Linked DNA regions of Homo sapiens: region 2 is linked to region 1. Evidence: fine-mapped expression QTL. Tissue or cell type: whole blood. Region 1 holds a variant in brackets; the other region holds the start of a gene. All regions are shown on one strand. Distances are between the middles of the regions.

Region 1 (7,459 bases):
CAGAGCACGCAACCAGCCAACCACCCCTGGAGCCACCTGAAGAGTGGCTTGGAGGTGTGGCCATCTCTAATCAAGCAAGCACCTGAGATCTGAGTCTCCTTCCAAGGAGGAGGAGGAGGAGCAAAGGTGTGGCGGTCACCAGGGAACCAGCTCCTTGCCATCCATTTGCCAGCTCTGAGGCCAGTGAGGATCTATGGGGCTGTGGTCTGCTGATAGGAGTAAGACATGTGCACAAGAATCCAGGGGAGGAGCCTGGCACAGAGTCTCAGGCTGTGTTGCTCCGGTGGCCCCCGGGCACCTCCTGGCCGTGTGCTCTATGTGCAAGCTTGTGTTACTGTGGCTGCTGGGAGGATTCAGGGACGAGAGGGAAGGGGTGCGGAGAGCCCCACACGGGGGTGTTTTGAAGGCTCCAATCCTCTGAATGCCACTGTCTGGAAGTCATGTTAGCAGTGGCCCTAGTGAACTCTTATTCCCCTGCTCCTGGTCTGGATTTCATCCACTCTAAGAGAGGTGGAGGATCCCTAACATTTTGAAAGCTGAAGATCTTTCTTAAGCCTTTCCCACGCTGCACTCATAAAATACCTAATCAGTCCATGACGTATGCAGTTGGAGAGATGAGATTGAGCCCAAACAGCCCTTTGTCGGGCGGGTGGGAACAGTCAGGCTTACAGCCCGGATTTCCAGTATGGATTGTTACATAAACCTTGCCTGCAATTTGACTCTGTAATGAAAGCTATTGTGTGTATACTTCAGACACGATAATGAAATATTTTGGTTTTTTTAGTCTCAAATGTTAGAAAACCAATTTTCTTTTAAAGGCAGACAAACTTCATTTCCTGTGGTTTGTAAAACCACAAGAGTCTCCTTTACTCAGCATCCAGAAAGGGGCCACACCCTACAATGGAACACCAGGCTCTGACGCCCTGGGATGACTGCTCCGAGGGGCAGGAGGTCACAGCTCTGAGCAAATCTTCCTGCCACCGCAGGGCACTGTCGGTGCCCACAGTTTGCAGACCCTGGCCAGGGTGATGTCTTGAGCATTCCAGTAACAAAGAAAAACCAGCAATTAACTCCCAGGCACAAGTACGAGCGTGAGCCCAGATCACTTAAAGAGGCTGGGTGGTTGGTTGCATCAGCTGTGAAAGCAAAACCCTTGGGTAAATTCTATGTTCTGAATGATGTTACTGTCCTCACTGGGGTTACGAGAGGGGAAGGGATCTGCCAACACCCTTCTCTCTGCTCCAAGAGGACAACAATGCTGGGGCTTAGGAGTCCCTTTTGCTAGAAATGCAGGCAGGAAGCTTGCTGTCACCCGCCTCCCCAGCTGGGTGTACTGAATATGGAGGTAGAGACCAGGCTTCAACCAGAGTATTATGAGTATCAGAGTATCATGAGGGATAAATTCAGCTTAGCCCTGTGAGGCCTTGGAGGTACTTGGACATGTTGCAAACCCTTGAACACTGTTAGACTGTGACAACAAATATCTCTTTGCAGGACAAGCAACTTCAAAATTCCACCTAACAAGCTGCAAGAAAGGGAATATCAGAGTAGACCAAGTCACAGATGAACTTTCTGAAATGGACTAAAGGCATTTTTTAGTGAACATGGAAGAAAAGGAAGATTTTTACAACGTAGCATTCCCACAACCTAAAAAAATTTCACATCCAACTGTTTTTTTATCTTCTTTGGTAGACATCAATGAAATAATTCCTTTAAATTCACAGAAGATAGCAAAATTAAAAAGCCATATTTATTTAATGCATCAAATACCAAAGTTCAATTAAGGAAACTATTGCAATCTTCACCTGAGATAGGCCCATCATCAGGTTAGAATAAAGTGTGATAAGGGGAAATGTTGTAAAAACCTCTTACGGCATAGCAACATGACTGCAGCCCACCAGTCTCAGCCATTACTGATACTGACCCTTGCAAAGAATCAAATCTCTAATATAATCCTGAGAATGTGCACACACATGTGAAGGAAAGAGGTGTATTATGTAATGGAACACTGATAGACAGACGTCTTAGCTCGCCTTACAGTTTTTTTTTTTTTTTTTTTTTTTTTTTGAGATAGTCTCGCTCTGTCGCCCAGGTTAGAGAGTGCGGTGGCGTGATCTCGGCTCACTGGAACCTCCACCTCCTGGGTTCAAGCATTTCTTCTGTCTCTGTCTCCCGAGTAGCTGGGACTACAGGTGCCTGCCACCATGCCCGGCTAATTTAAGTATTTTCAGCAGAGACAGGGTTTCACCATATTGGTCAGGCTGGTCTCAAACTCCTGACCTCAGGCGATCCACCCACCTCAGCCTCCCAAAGTGCTGGGATTACAGGCGTGAGCCCTGCGCCCGGCCAGCTCTCCTTACATCTTGATTTCAATCCTATAAATGGGAAATGGTAGGGAGCACTGTCTAGTCTACTGTGGGATTTCTAGTTGTCATAACAATAAGAACCATATAAACAACGCCCACCTGGTAAACATTAGGGTGGCCCAGGAACTCTGCAGCAGTCACTGAGCACATTCCAAAGAGCGGATGTTAACCCCCCAACCCCGTATTTTAAAGGGCTAGCTTCAGTCTGGCTGCCAATGGTTACATTTTTTCTTCCCCACCTTGTGTTTAGCCTCCCCTTCTGTGTCCAACCTCCTCCACTTCTCAATGACCCCAAGGGCCTCTGTAAGTGCAGGATTCTACCCAAAACCCTCCCAATTCCAAAGGGTGGGCCTTGGCATAAAGAGGCATCATTCCAGGGTGCTACACGGTGGCTTCTGAGGGAAGACCAAGAAGGCTGAACCTGTTGTATTTGGTAATGAATTTTGTTTTCTCCTGGGTTGGGTGAGCACCTTAGGAGCTTACTGTGGAAGCAGAGTCCTAGCGAAAATAAGACTGGCATTGATAGGATGTCTTGTATCATCAAAATGCTTAACAGGTCCATGAAACATCCTAGCATTGCTGTGAGAGTGGTTCCAAGGTTTCTATGAATGGTGGAAACAGACACAAACGAAATGTGGGAAGAAGCTTTGGGAAGACCAAGAATGAAAAAAAGGGAAAAGAACCTAACACTCAATGCAATGCTACTTAAGGAGAAAAATACATAAACCGTTCTTCAAGCTTTAGGTCCAAAACAATGTTCTCTCTTAAGAGGGTGGTTTGCAAACAGGGACCATGAGATAATTTACAATCAAATCATTTCAGATATTGAATGATGATTCTGAAACACGCATTCTATTTCCATCAATGTGAGGTTTATTTCCATAGAAACGGTGAAAAAAGTAGGCCAAACCCAGCAGTATGGCTTCTAAAAGGAATAGCAGCTGTGGTTCTGGCCAGCCATGGAAAGCACTGGTTTTGTAACTACTATAGTAAAGAGCTCTGACTGAAGGGAAATAGAAAGTTTCAACTCAAAGAAAGGGCATGGAAAGTATCTGAGAACTTTCCTGGCTGTTTCTTACAAAGCCATGGAGAAAAAATCATCTCCTGTGCACCCTGCTCTTCACAATGCCACAGTAAAGTCGAATTCACCACCTGCGAAACAGCTGCCTCCTGTAGGCTGGCCTCAGAGGAAGCACACATGCTCCATCAGTTGCAACAAGGCGAAAGTCAGAAGAGTGTGAAAGTGTCAGGCCCAGTGCTCCCGGAAAATGAACCCGGAAACACTCAGTGAGGCACCACCGGTGTGAGAAAGAAGAGACAGGTGTCTTCTCCAATGGGCACAAGTATGTCATGCTTAGAAAAGCAGAACACAGGATGAAACAAAACATATTTATTTGCAAAGAAAGATCATGTTTAAATTGTACCTGTGTTTAAAAATGGCCTCTTTGATGGGTTATAAAAGTGCAGGCAGGTTTTATGAAACACGCACTTTGCCTCTCTTCTATCCTTTTGTGGGAAGCAGGCAGATGCTGGCTGGAGGACATTTGAGAGCTCGGAGCTGAGGCTCATCACAGCCAAATCCCTCACTCACCAAGTGAGCGGAGCTGCCACTGACGCTTCTCCACTCCCGCAGAATCTACTATTGAGCACTGGGCCCCCTGAGGACAGGATGTGACCCTGGCTGGCATGATTCATTCAACCCGTTCATCTTGGAATTCTTTTGCAGAAAAAAAAAAAGTGACACTTCTATGGCTAAAGATTTCCTTAAAGAAGAAGAAACATCAGAACGAACCTTTGTGCTGTGTGAAATGAGGGAACAAAAGATTACTTTCAGTGAGTTGATATCTGTAAGCTAATCAACTGGGTACTGGCCTCTTGTTAGAGGAAAAAAAAGTCCAACTTGGAAACCATTACCACAGGAAAAAACAATGACTATGTTGTTCATTCCTGTTGGTCACTTGGGTAGTCTAAGAAGTAGGACATATATGTCTGTAAGCCCTTTAAAATACACATCTTTTCTTTTTTCTTCTCACTATGTAAAACACATATATATTATCCTAAAGTCACTTGAAAAACACAGACTGCTTACAATCAATAGAAGATACCAGTAAGATGCAAGAAAATGAGCATTTTACAGACAGACCTTTGATAGGCTTTAAAGTGAATCGTTTTTATTTAAAACAGGGATCCATCAGAGGTGGTGAACTATCAAGGTCAAGGTTCTAGAGCATGGCACAGATGAAAGGTAATA[C/AATAC]TCACCAGCACCTCACATGGGACTCAGTGACAATGTCAGCAACACACCATGGAAGGAGAACAAACCCGATGTAAAAGGCACCTAGCTGGGGAGAAGCTGTGGTGTTCACTGCCTCTCTAGCAGGTTTGCTTTTGTGCACTGTGGCTAAGTCTGGATGAATAATATTGGGAAGGGAATAATCGGAAGCGAGGCTCCTATGCAGGCAGCTACCCTCTCCTGATTGGTGTATACTCGCCATGTGGTAGGAGGTCTTACAGGAGACTGAGGTTACCAAACAGGAATACAACACCTCTCTCCCTTTTCTGCTCTAGAAGGAAGGGGAACCCTTCCCCCAGTATCAATTTCAGCAGCGGCTTCTAAAGGCTGTTAAAAAGCATCCTAACTTAAAAACAAATAACAACAGTAACCAAATAAAAGACAGAAAAGTGGCCTGAACTTAAATCAATCAATGGAAAGGTAGATTCATAAAAATAAAATAAAAACTGGTGACCAGTCCATTAACCATGGGGTTAATGCCTCGTCTGAAGGAAGATGTTTACGCTGCATCCACGATCCAGCAGGCGCGGAGCTGCTCTTGGCAACTGTGAATGAATAGCTACCGTTTCCCTTCAACACACCGCGCTGCCACCGGTGACCGCATGTCAAGTGCTGAAGTTAGAAGAGACCCCACGTTGGCAAAGGCCCCCCAGGCGATGATCTGCCTGACGCGGCCAGGTCTGTGGGAAACAAGACTTACGATCTCAAATAATGACCCCCAAGTGCCCTCGCCTCTTCCTGCTTGCCCTGTGCGCCTCGACCTCCTCACGGGGAGTTCCAAATGAGTTCCATTTCCCTCTCAGTTCTAGGCACTCTGGAACATCTTTGATTAACCAGGGTTTTTCATTTCTTTCCAACGCCATTGGTGACTTTTGACTTGGAATGCCGATTCCTTCTCCTGGAAGAATGGCTTTCGTTGTTGCCTGCATGCTTGGGTGGGCTGTCTTCAGAACCTGGCCAAAGGAATCAGAGCACACCGTCACCCTGGGCTCTGGAGATTGGTGACTGTCCCTTTCCAGACCGCCCTAGGCTTGCCGGGGAACAGGTTCTTCCCTGATACGTGCACTCCCCCTAGTGGCCTCATTCATAAATGAAGGCGAGGCTCTCAAACACAGAACTAGTACTGAAGGAGCACACGCGGTGGCGCGGGGTTCAACGCAATAGCGCCCCAAAGTCTGGGTGGTTCCTGAAGCGTGTGTACATCTGTCCTGTGTATGATGGACATGGTCATGATGGTGAGGACCAGAAGTGAGAGCACAAGTGAAACGGAAGCCCAAACGAGGGGCAATTAAAACACACACCACGCGGTGCCCATCCTGCCCTGCAACCAAGGGTTTCCATCCCTTCACCTGCTCCACACCACCTTCTAAACCCGACATCAGGAAAGACTCTTGACACTATAAAATCAGAGCTATTTCACACCCTCTACATTTGATCTGGAGAACATCTTTACAATTCAGGCCCCTGCTGCCCACGATGGAGGGCACTGGGCAGCCTCTGCCCTCCAGCTGAGCCTTTGTTCAGCCCCTGCCTGGCCTAGCGGCCAAGCCAAAGGGTTCTCTGCCCCAGGGCTCTGATCCAGCCCCATAGGAAATCTCCACCTGAGGCTGCCAACAAAAAAAAAGTTACCAGAGTTACAGTCTCCACTGTAAGGAGCATTTGACTTAGACTAAGAGATTCTTTCCCCACTCAGAAGACTTCTGTTTTTGTTATTTTTCTTTTTTTATTATTCCATCAAGTAAATACATCTCTACTACTGCTTAATTCTCTTCAGTGGAGAACCTGTAAGTGCCAAGGTTGTTTGTAAGGGCATGGTTCTAAATAAGATAGCTGGGGAGCCCCTCTGTCCATCTCTATCAGATTTCACAACGGGCCGCTCACTGATCAATTCCGTGGTTCAGGAGAAACTTTCCCCAAAAGGGCGGCCAGCAGCTCAGCAGAGTGTATGTTAGTGTCTCCCCTGGGAGATCTTTAATGAGCCTGATGCCAAAAGAACTTAGGAGAATGACTGCAACAGGGCGCTTTCTTCTCCATTGGCCCACCGTTTCTCTGAGCAATTTTGTGAGCTAAAATTCAGTCTTTAGTATTTCTAATTTTCTTTCTTCAGCCAAGCTTCCCAAGTAGCTTATAAGGATTGACGAGGAATTACTGTCCAATGAAATCACCTCAATGTCATTATTCTACAAGTCTAATTCTTTGAAATAACCAGGTGGCCCCAAATATTCCCAAAGTGATCCTTAGAGGCCAGTGGAGGTTCCCTAACTACACGACCAAAATCTCTTACACTGCCCTGCCTCTTGAATAAATGCCATTAAAATGATCCCCCTCTTTTGAAAGGCTTTTCCTCCTGATACACAGTACCTTTTTTTTTTTTTTTTTTTTTTTTTTTTTTAAGAGGCAGGGACTTGTTCTGTCTTCCACATGGGAGTGATCCTGGGCTCAAGTGACCCTCCTATCTCTGACTCCTGACTAGCTGTAACTACAGGCATGTGCCACCACATCTGGCTAATTTTTTAAGATTTTTGTAGAGACAGGGTCTTGCTCTGTTGCCCATGCTGGTCTCAAATACCTGGCCTCAAATGATCCTGCCATGGCATCCCAAAGCGCTGGGGTTACAGGCGTGAGCCACTGTGCCTGGCCGGATATACAGTTCTTCCTGTTCACTCATGATGGAAGCCAAGAGGAAGAACGTTCCCATCAGGGTGCTTGAAATGGTGTGGGGCCCTCACGAAGGGCAGAGCTACATGGAGCCTCTTCTTACAAACCAAGTCTTTCACTCAGATCCTGTGAGCATTTTGCATGTTTC
Region 2 (7,459 bases), 74 kb after region 1:
CTGGATCTCTGAAGCATGTGACAGTACCCAAGTACTGTTTCTCACATACTGGTTATATGACATCCCAAAAGAATCCTATCTCCTCGTTCTCTTAGACAACTAGTCTTTGCAAAACAAACTTTAAGACATATCTTTTAAGTTTTACTGAAAGAATTGCACTGAACAATTGTCCAACTAAAATCTTATAAAATAAATAATAAGGCACTGGAGTTAATCATTACAAAAGAACATAGGATACATTTTCATTTAAGAAGTCGTTACTTTCCGTCTTTATGGAGGAATATAGAGCTATCATTGTAATGCCCCACTTAAGTCACAAATCATTACAAAAAATGAGTAAGATTTAGTAAGTACGAATTCTATTAATGGTGCTTATGATTTTATATAAAGTGAAACTTGTTATTAATTAGTTCTTCATTATGTGATTTCTGTCTCTTTATGAAATTAGTGGAAGAAATAAAATTGTTAACATTTTTGGATGAGACTACAGTCTGAAGTTCAGATTATGGTTCTTCTATTATTTTGGACAAGCTGTTAAAATTCGTATTCATTTCTTATACTTTCACTGCTGCAATTTATTGACTGCCTTGACAGAATATGATGTAAAAGGAAATTTCAGAAGATTGTGACTTTTTATATCAGAAAAGAGGAAGAGAAACCTATTTTGAAAGGACCTAGAATAATATTAAAAATGAAAGGCTGAAACAAATGGCTCATTCTTGCTTCTCATTATTTAAAACAAAATACCATAATTATTTTTCTAATTTCCAGAGAAACTCCCTCACTAATTTCATTATTTCAAGCCCACACCTAAGATGAAGTTAAACTGAAGTTAACATCAAACAGGTATGTATGTTATCTAATGTCCATTTTTCCAGTGCTTTTATCCTTCTCAATTACAGAGCATACTACATCCTCGTTCAATAATAAATATAAATTAGAAGACAGTAGCATTCAATGAAATCACATCGTAATAACCACTAATGTTTATTAAGCACTTAATACTTGCCATGCACTGAGCTAAACAGATTATCTAAAAAGATGAATTTAATCCTCATGACAAATAATCCCGACAGATTAATGTATTGATATTTTCATTTTACATACAGATAAGGAAACTGAGGCCTAGCAAAATTATGTGGCCACACAGCTATTAAGTGATAAAATCAGGCAACATAATGAAGTATTTGAAAGTAACCATAGTTAGGGACATGATTCATTTCTCTCCAAAGCTAGAAATATGTCTGGTCAGGTACTGTGGAAAGGTCTGGTCTTCACCTGCTGCACAGCTTTAGCAGATTTTATAGTAATAGTGGCAAGATCCCTCAATCATTAAAGAGTAAGCAATTGTTACTTAAGCTTTATACCTTTAGGTAGATTCTTTCAAATGGATAAACACTTACATAACAAGAACCAAGAGTCAAATGAATCCCAGAGGTAAGGAACAAGTGTGATGTGGGAGGATATTAGTTTTATGAGGATTTGAAAAACTGCAGTTATTCCTAAGGGAGGCACCACCGGCACTTGTGTGTGTGTATGCAAACGACTGTGTAGAAGACAATTCCCTTTATGTTGTACAGCGCTGTCACATATGTCACAATACATTTAGTATCCGTTAACTGCTCCCCCTCCCAAATACTAGAAGTTCTCTCAATCCTTGTGACTACCCAATATATATATCCCTACACATGTTCTGCTGACCCTGACAGAGAACCTTGATTGTTGGATAAAAATACTGGGAGAGAAGTAACTGACATGAATTGTACATTGTGCTCCAGGGACTCTGCTAAATGCATTCACACACATTCATTTAATTTTCATAACCCTATATAAGTAGATATTTCATCCCCATTTTACGAGTGTGGCCCCTGAGGCTCAGAGCAAGGTTATGCAACTTAATTAAGGACACACAGCCAGTTTTGAAACCAAAAGTGTGGCTCAAAAACTACTCTACTCTAAGTTGGCCTTTTAAGCCATAATGGTGAGAGAGGTGTGACTTCCCTTTCTTTAAAGAGGTTCATTCAGAAAGTATAAATCATTCTAAGTAGGAACCACGGTGTGTACCTCCTTATGAACCAAGGATGAATTAGTTCTCTAGGTTAGGAATGAGGAGCCACAGGCGCAGTGCCAGAGTTAACATGAGGTGTGTTCAAGATTTGGGCTGGGCAGCTCCTATGAACCGGTATATATTAGAATGTGTGTGTATGTTTTCCAGGGAATAAGAGAGTTGTGTTATGCTGTGTGAGGTTTATGTGTTTCATTTAACACACAGCAGTTACTATACCCCAGGCACCATTAAAATTGCTGGACAAGATCACATTTCAGCACGTATGTTAGGTAATGAGTGAGCAGGGTATGCACCGCGTGATGTGTGGCGGGCTGGTGTCTGTGCAGCCATGTACACAGATGATGGGTATTGGGCTGTGCTGGAAAGGAAAGGTCCGCTGTGAGGTGTGTGTTTAGAGTGGCAGTTTGTGCCGTGGTACAGATGGTAGTGTTTGAGGCTGGGGGAAGTGTTATGCTGGATGACTTGTGTGCAATGCATACGGGAAGTGCTGCACAGGAAAGACCGTGTATGCAGCACACATGTGCATTTTTTGTGCGTTACGGATAGTGCCGAATACCGGAGTTCCACAGGAAGGGATCTAGGTTGTGTCCTGGGCCTGTGTATGGTGCCTGCAGGCGCTGTGGATTGGGGTGCTTTGTATGTGTAGCGGTGTGTGCTGAAAGTGGTGCATACGACATGATTCATGCGGTGTGCTGGGTAGGGACGAAGGCTGGAGCAGTGCAGAGGAGGGGCCCGCGTCGTGATGTTGTGTGGAGCGATGCTGAGTGCGGTGGGTGAGGGGGCGATCGTGCTAGGTGACTCGCGTGCGTTCCCCGTGTAACCGGAGGCGCTGTATGGAGAAGGGGCACTGAGGGGTAGGGGAGCAGGCTAGCGTACTGTGAGACACCGGGCGGGCGGAGGGGCCGCGTGGGCGGCGGGCTGCCAGTGCGTGTGCGTGGAGCAGCCAGCCCACTTCCTCACCCAGAGCCATGCCGGGCCCCCCTCCCCGCCACCCTCCCTCCCGCCTCTTCCCTAGCCCTTGGACGCGCCCCCCGCTCGGCTGGGCCGCCCCACCTGGTAAAGGCGAAGTACATGAGGCTGACGATGGTGAAGCTGAGCAGGGTGATGGTATGCGGCCGGTAGAAGAAGTCAATGGTGATGTCCTCCACTTGCTGCTCGTTGATCATCCGGAAATGCATTTTGTAGTTCACATCATCCTTGCTTAGGGTCCGGCTCCCCACGCAGGACGCCATGGCCCGCCTCCCCGTCCTGCCGCGGTGGCGGCGGCCCCAGCCCGAGAAGGCCGGGACCCCGGGGGTGACTAGCCACAGTAGGCTAATAGCCGGACGGCAAAGCCGGGTCTGGCGCCCAGCAAAGGCTGGGAGCAGAGGGAAGGACAGGCGCGAGAGGGCGGGGTCGCGGCGCCGCCACCGCGGCCTGGGGCAGGGGACGCCGCCGGCCGTCCCCACGCTGTCATCCTAGCTGAGGCATCTCTACCACTCGAGGAATTTTCAGACTCCAAGTCCACAGGACTTCAGAGGAATAGCGAGCCGGAGAAGGGTAGCCGGGGCCCCTGGCTGGCTCTTTTCAGAGCACGTAGCCCGCTGTCTCCCCGCGTAACCCGGCACATGGTCTCGCCCACTCCGGGCGCGGCCCACGTGGGCCCGGGAGCGCGGCTGCGCTGTGTAGGGCGGGCTGAGGAGCCGGCGTGCGGCGCGGCGGGACGGGACGTGCGGCCCAGCGAGTTGGTCGGTCCCGGGGTCACCCGCTACGGGAAGCAGGCCTCGCCACAGGTAAAGCAGGAGCTGCCCCAGCACGAGGATCGCGCTCCTGGCGAGGGTTCAGGTTCCGGCGCACCCGCGTCCAGACCGCGCCCCAGGGCCTCAAGGGCCTTTAGGTTTTCGCGGCCCAGTAGAGGGTGATTGGTTTTGTTTTGTGTTTTTCCCTGGCTGATGTAGTGAAAACTCAACCATGCTGGCTAATTAGCGCAGTGTGAGAAGCCTCAGGAGGGGGCTCTGCCTTCCTGCGCAAGTTTGGGGAACTGAAGTGGGCTAAAATGGCCTGGGAAGTATTGAGAGACCCTTTATTAGGAAGCTGCCCCCATAACCTCCCTTTCTCTCCTGATTTCATTTATAGCATTTCGTAGGTAGAAATCTTGAACTCTATTTCAGTGCCTTTTTCTAGCGAAGCACTAGGCACTCATTGAGAACAGTATATATGAATTGTTAAGAGACTTCAGTTTCTTTAAGGGTTTTCTGTAATTTTCCTGATGAAAGGACCTTGTTAGAAGACTTCAGGTTACCACCTTACAGGGCTTTTATACACATCTGCACATCCCCTACCCGCTTTTGCATACTGTGTAAGCAAGTGAGTTAACTGTACTTGCCATTGATTTATTTCCATTCCGCAAACATTAGAGCAGTACAAGGCTCTGGGAAAGTGGAGAATAGTCCCCGGAAGGATGGATCCAGGGATGAGACCCAGCTCTGCTCTCGTGCATGAACAGTTAATCAATTGTTAAGATGTGTAGGCAGCAATGAAAGGATGTGGAGAAGATAGTGCACTTGTAAATAAAAATGCAAGGATAAACATTAGTTGTATGCACAAAGATCTTTTAATGACGGGGTGAAATTTGAAAGTGAGTCTTCCTGATGTTTAAGTGGTATTGAGTGTGGAAAGGCTTCAGGATGAATTTGGGATTTCAGGAGTTTGAAGTAGGATGAAGTGCTTAGACGTCAAAAAATGTTAGAGCTGATAGGGGCCTTAAGAATCATCTTATTGTACCCCTAGCCTTTTAAAAAAGCATTATTTGAAGAATAGTTATTGACCCCACCCCCACCCCCCACATCATGGGCTAGACTGCTGCTTTTGTTAGACTGCTGCCAGAAACAGCCTTGTCAAGGTAGCACAACCGAGGTCTTCTGACTTTCAATTTAGTGCCCTTATGACTACCGTGCAGAGAATGAATGTTGTAGGTTTGAGGGAAAACTTGGCACATTTGGAGTCCCATTTCCCACCAAAATCTAACAGAAACCACCTATCCCAGCAGGGTATTGTGAATACTTACTTCTTTTCTAAAATCATCGCAGAATGGGCCGAGCGCAGTGGCTCACGCCTGTAATCCCAGCACTTTGGGAAGCTGGGTGGATCACCTGAGGTAAGGAGTTCGAGGCCAGCCTGGCCAAGATGGTGAAACCCCGTCTCTACTAAAAACACAAAAAATTAGCCGGGCATAGTAGCGGGCGTGGGTAATCCCAGCTACTCGGGAGGCTGAGGCAGGAGAATCACTTGAACCTGGGAGGCAGAGGTTGCAGTGAGCCAAGATGGTGCCGTTGTACTCCAGCCTGGGCAACAAGGGCGAAACTCCGTCTCAAAAAAAATAATAATAATAATAATAATAAATAATTGCAGAATGAAAGGAAACTTTCACTTTTGTAAAATCTCTTTCAGCAAACTTCCCAAAACTACAGATCTCCAAGAAAAGATTAGACCCTCAAGTATTTGGTCTAATTTAGAGCATAAAACAAGCTGAATTCCAGTATGCAGAAAAACAAAGTATAAAGTTGTAGGCAGCAATTAATTCAGCAGAATTTTTGTATTTGGTTGTGTAACCAATAATAATGGCTAACATTTATTGAGCATTTCTTATATCCTGACTCCATCCTGTGTTTTATATGGATAATGTTATTTAACGTAAGATTATATGCATCAAATTTACCTTTCTAATTAGCTGGCTAAATATAAAATCCCTTCATATTCCTGGAGTTTAACATAGCACTAGCCTTTCCTGATAAAAATATTTTTGAAAACTACTTTTTCAGTCAAAATATACAGGTATTAATTGCTGGTTGCTTATTTATTTCTGTCACTTGGTTTTGTTACTAGTTTTGACCTTTTCTTTTTGAAGGCTTTTTTCTCCTTTCCTACAGTGAAACAAAACTTGACAAAACTGGTTTTGTTCAATTCCCTTTGGAAGAACAGCTTTATCTGTGAAGTAATCAACAGTGTTCAGCCCTGAGAATGAAGCAAGAAACTGCTTTCACTGTTCTGTATATCAATGATAATATTTTGATGATTTGTTTAGGACACAGTAGATTTCTGTTTTTTCATTTTGGGACAAATTTATATACATAAAATGCATTTGAATAATTCAGTGTTACTTTGATCAGCAATGTGCTGCGGAAACACCCTTCACACCAAATTTCAAGAACACTTATTTGCATCAGCTTATTCTCTTTAAATGATTAAATTAACAGATTAGTGAGGTCTGCTGTCACTTGAACATTTGCAGATTTTTGTTTTAAGCATTTTTCTTACACCAGTGTCATTGCATTTTGTTTTTAAATTGTAAAGTATATCTTTATTTTTCCACTCAGAAGTTCCTGTCTGTTGGTTTGTAACTGAGATTGCCTTGTTGTTGGCTTTTCCTGTACATAAGAAACATCTCACTATTTTAGACTAAATATATATTTAAACACCTTTCAATTAGAAAAAAATAATTTCCAGTTTATCTTTTTGTTGTTTGAATACCGTTTTAAACATTTAAGTAAATTAAATTTCTCTTCTTTTGACGGTTATATCTTTCCTTTGTAGACTAAGAAAAATGGCTTTGTCAGCCCAACAGATACCCAGATGGTTTAACTCAGTTAAGTTGAGGAGCCTCATTAATGCTGCACAACTCACAAAACGTTTTACTAGACCAGCAAGAACACTGTTACATGGCTTTTCTGCTCAGCCTCAGATATCCTCTGACAATTGCTTTCTCCAGTGGGGATTTAAGACTTACAGGACTTCCTCCTTATGGAATAGTTCCCAGTCTACTAGCTCAAGTAGTCAGGAGAATAATTCTGCCCAAAGCAGTCTGCTTCCTTCCATGAATGAACAGTCACAGAAGACACAAAATATATCCAGCTTTGATTCTGAGCTGTTTCTAGAAGGTAATTCTGAACTTTCAGAAAAGTCTCCCTTTCCCTACTTTGGCCATTTGAACAAGCTACCTGTTTACCTTCTGCTAGCCCATTTCAGGTAATATTTTGTGCCAAGAAAGAAAAAGAATAATACCAGTTCTATTGATGAACTTCTATCATGCCTTTATTTTACTGGTAAGAAAAAAAGTTTGTGGGCTAACGTGTAAGATTATTTTATAGCTACACATATAAAACATTTGCTTTTTAAATATTTTATTGTTTAGATTCTTAAAACAAAATTCTTCTAGTGGTAATTAGTTTTATTAGGGTATAATTATATCAAGTAAAATTCATCTTGTGGGATATATAGTTCTATGAATTTTGACATATGCATTTAGTGTGTAAGAACTACTGCAATCAACAAATAAAACAATTATATTAACTCCACAGAGTTCCCTCATGGTCGCTTTTTAGTCAATCCTCTCCTTCCTATGGGTCCTATTCT

What was found. PIP is the estimated chance that this variant, and not a neighbour inherited with it, causes the effect.
Region 2: PTDSS1 starts here. The variant in region 1 is fine-mapped to the expression of PTDSS1 in whole blood (TOPMed, PIP above 0.99).

What each region holds. Positions count from the first base shown.
Region 1 is chr8:96,331,604-96,339,062 of GRCh38, reverse strand. PTDSS1 (phosphatidylserine synthase 1) reads right to left here. Exons shown (of 13, transcript NM_014754.3): 13 at 2,068-5,606. The coding sequence ends at 5,497. Among named protein-coding and RNA genes, the nearest start is that of PTDSS1, 73 kb to the right of the region's middle. The variant C/AATAC (reference allele first, on the strand shown) is at 4,618.
Region 2 is chr8:96,257,882-96,265,340 of GRCh38, reverse strand. PTDSS1 (phosphatidylserine synthase 1) reads right to left here and starts at 3,439. Exons shown (of 13, transcript NM_014754.3): 1 at 3,122-3,439. The coding sequence starts at 3,300. MTERF3 (mitochondrial transcription termination factor 3) reads left to right here and starts at 3,731. Exons shown (of 8, transcript NM_015942.5): 1 at 3,731-3,840; 2 at 6,641-6,984. The coding sequence starts at 6,651. It overlaps LOC105375652 (a long non-coding RNA gene), which reads left to right. Exons shown (of 3, transcript XR_928431.3): 3 at 449-535. RefSeq lists enhancers at 2,514-2,753, 2,899-3,591, 4,074-4,133, 4,285-4,978 and silencers at 2,904-3,083, 3,134-3,503, 3,684-3,833, 3,586-3,910.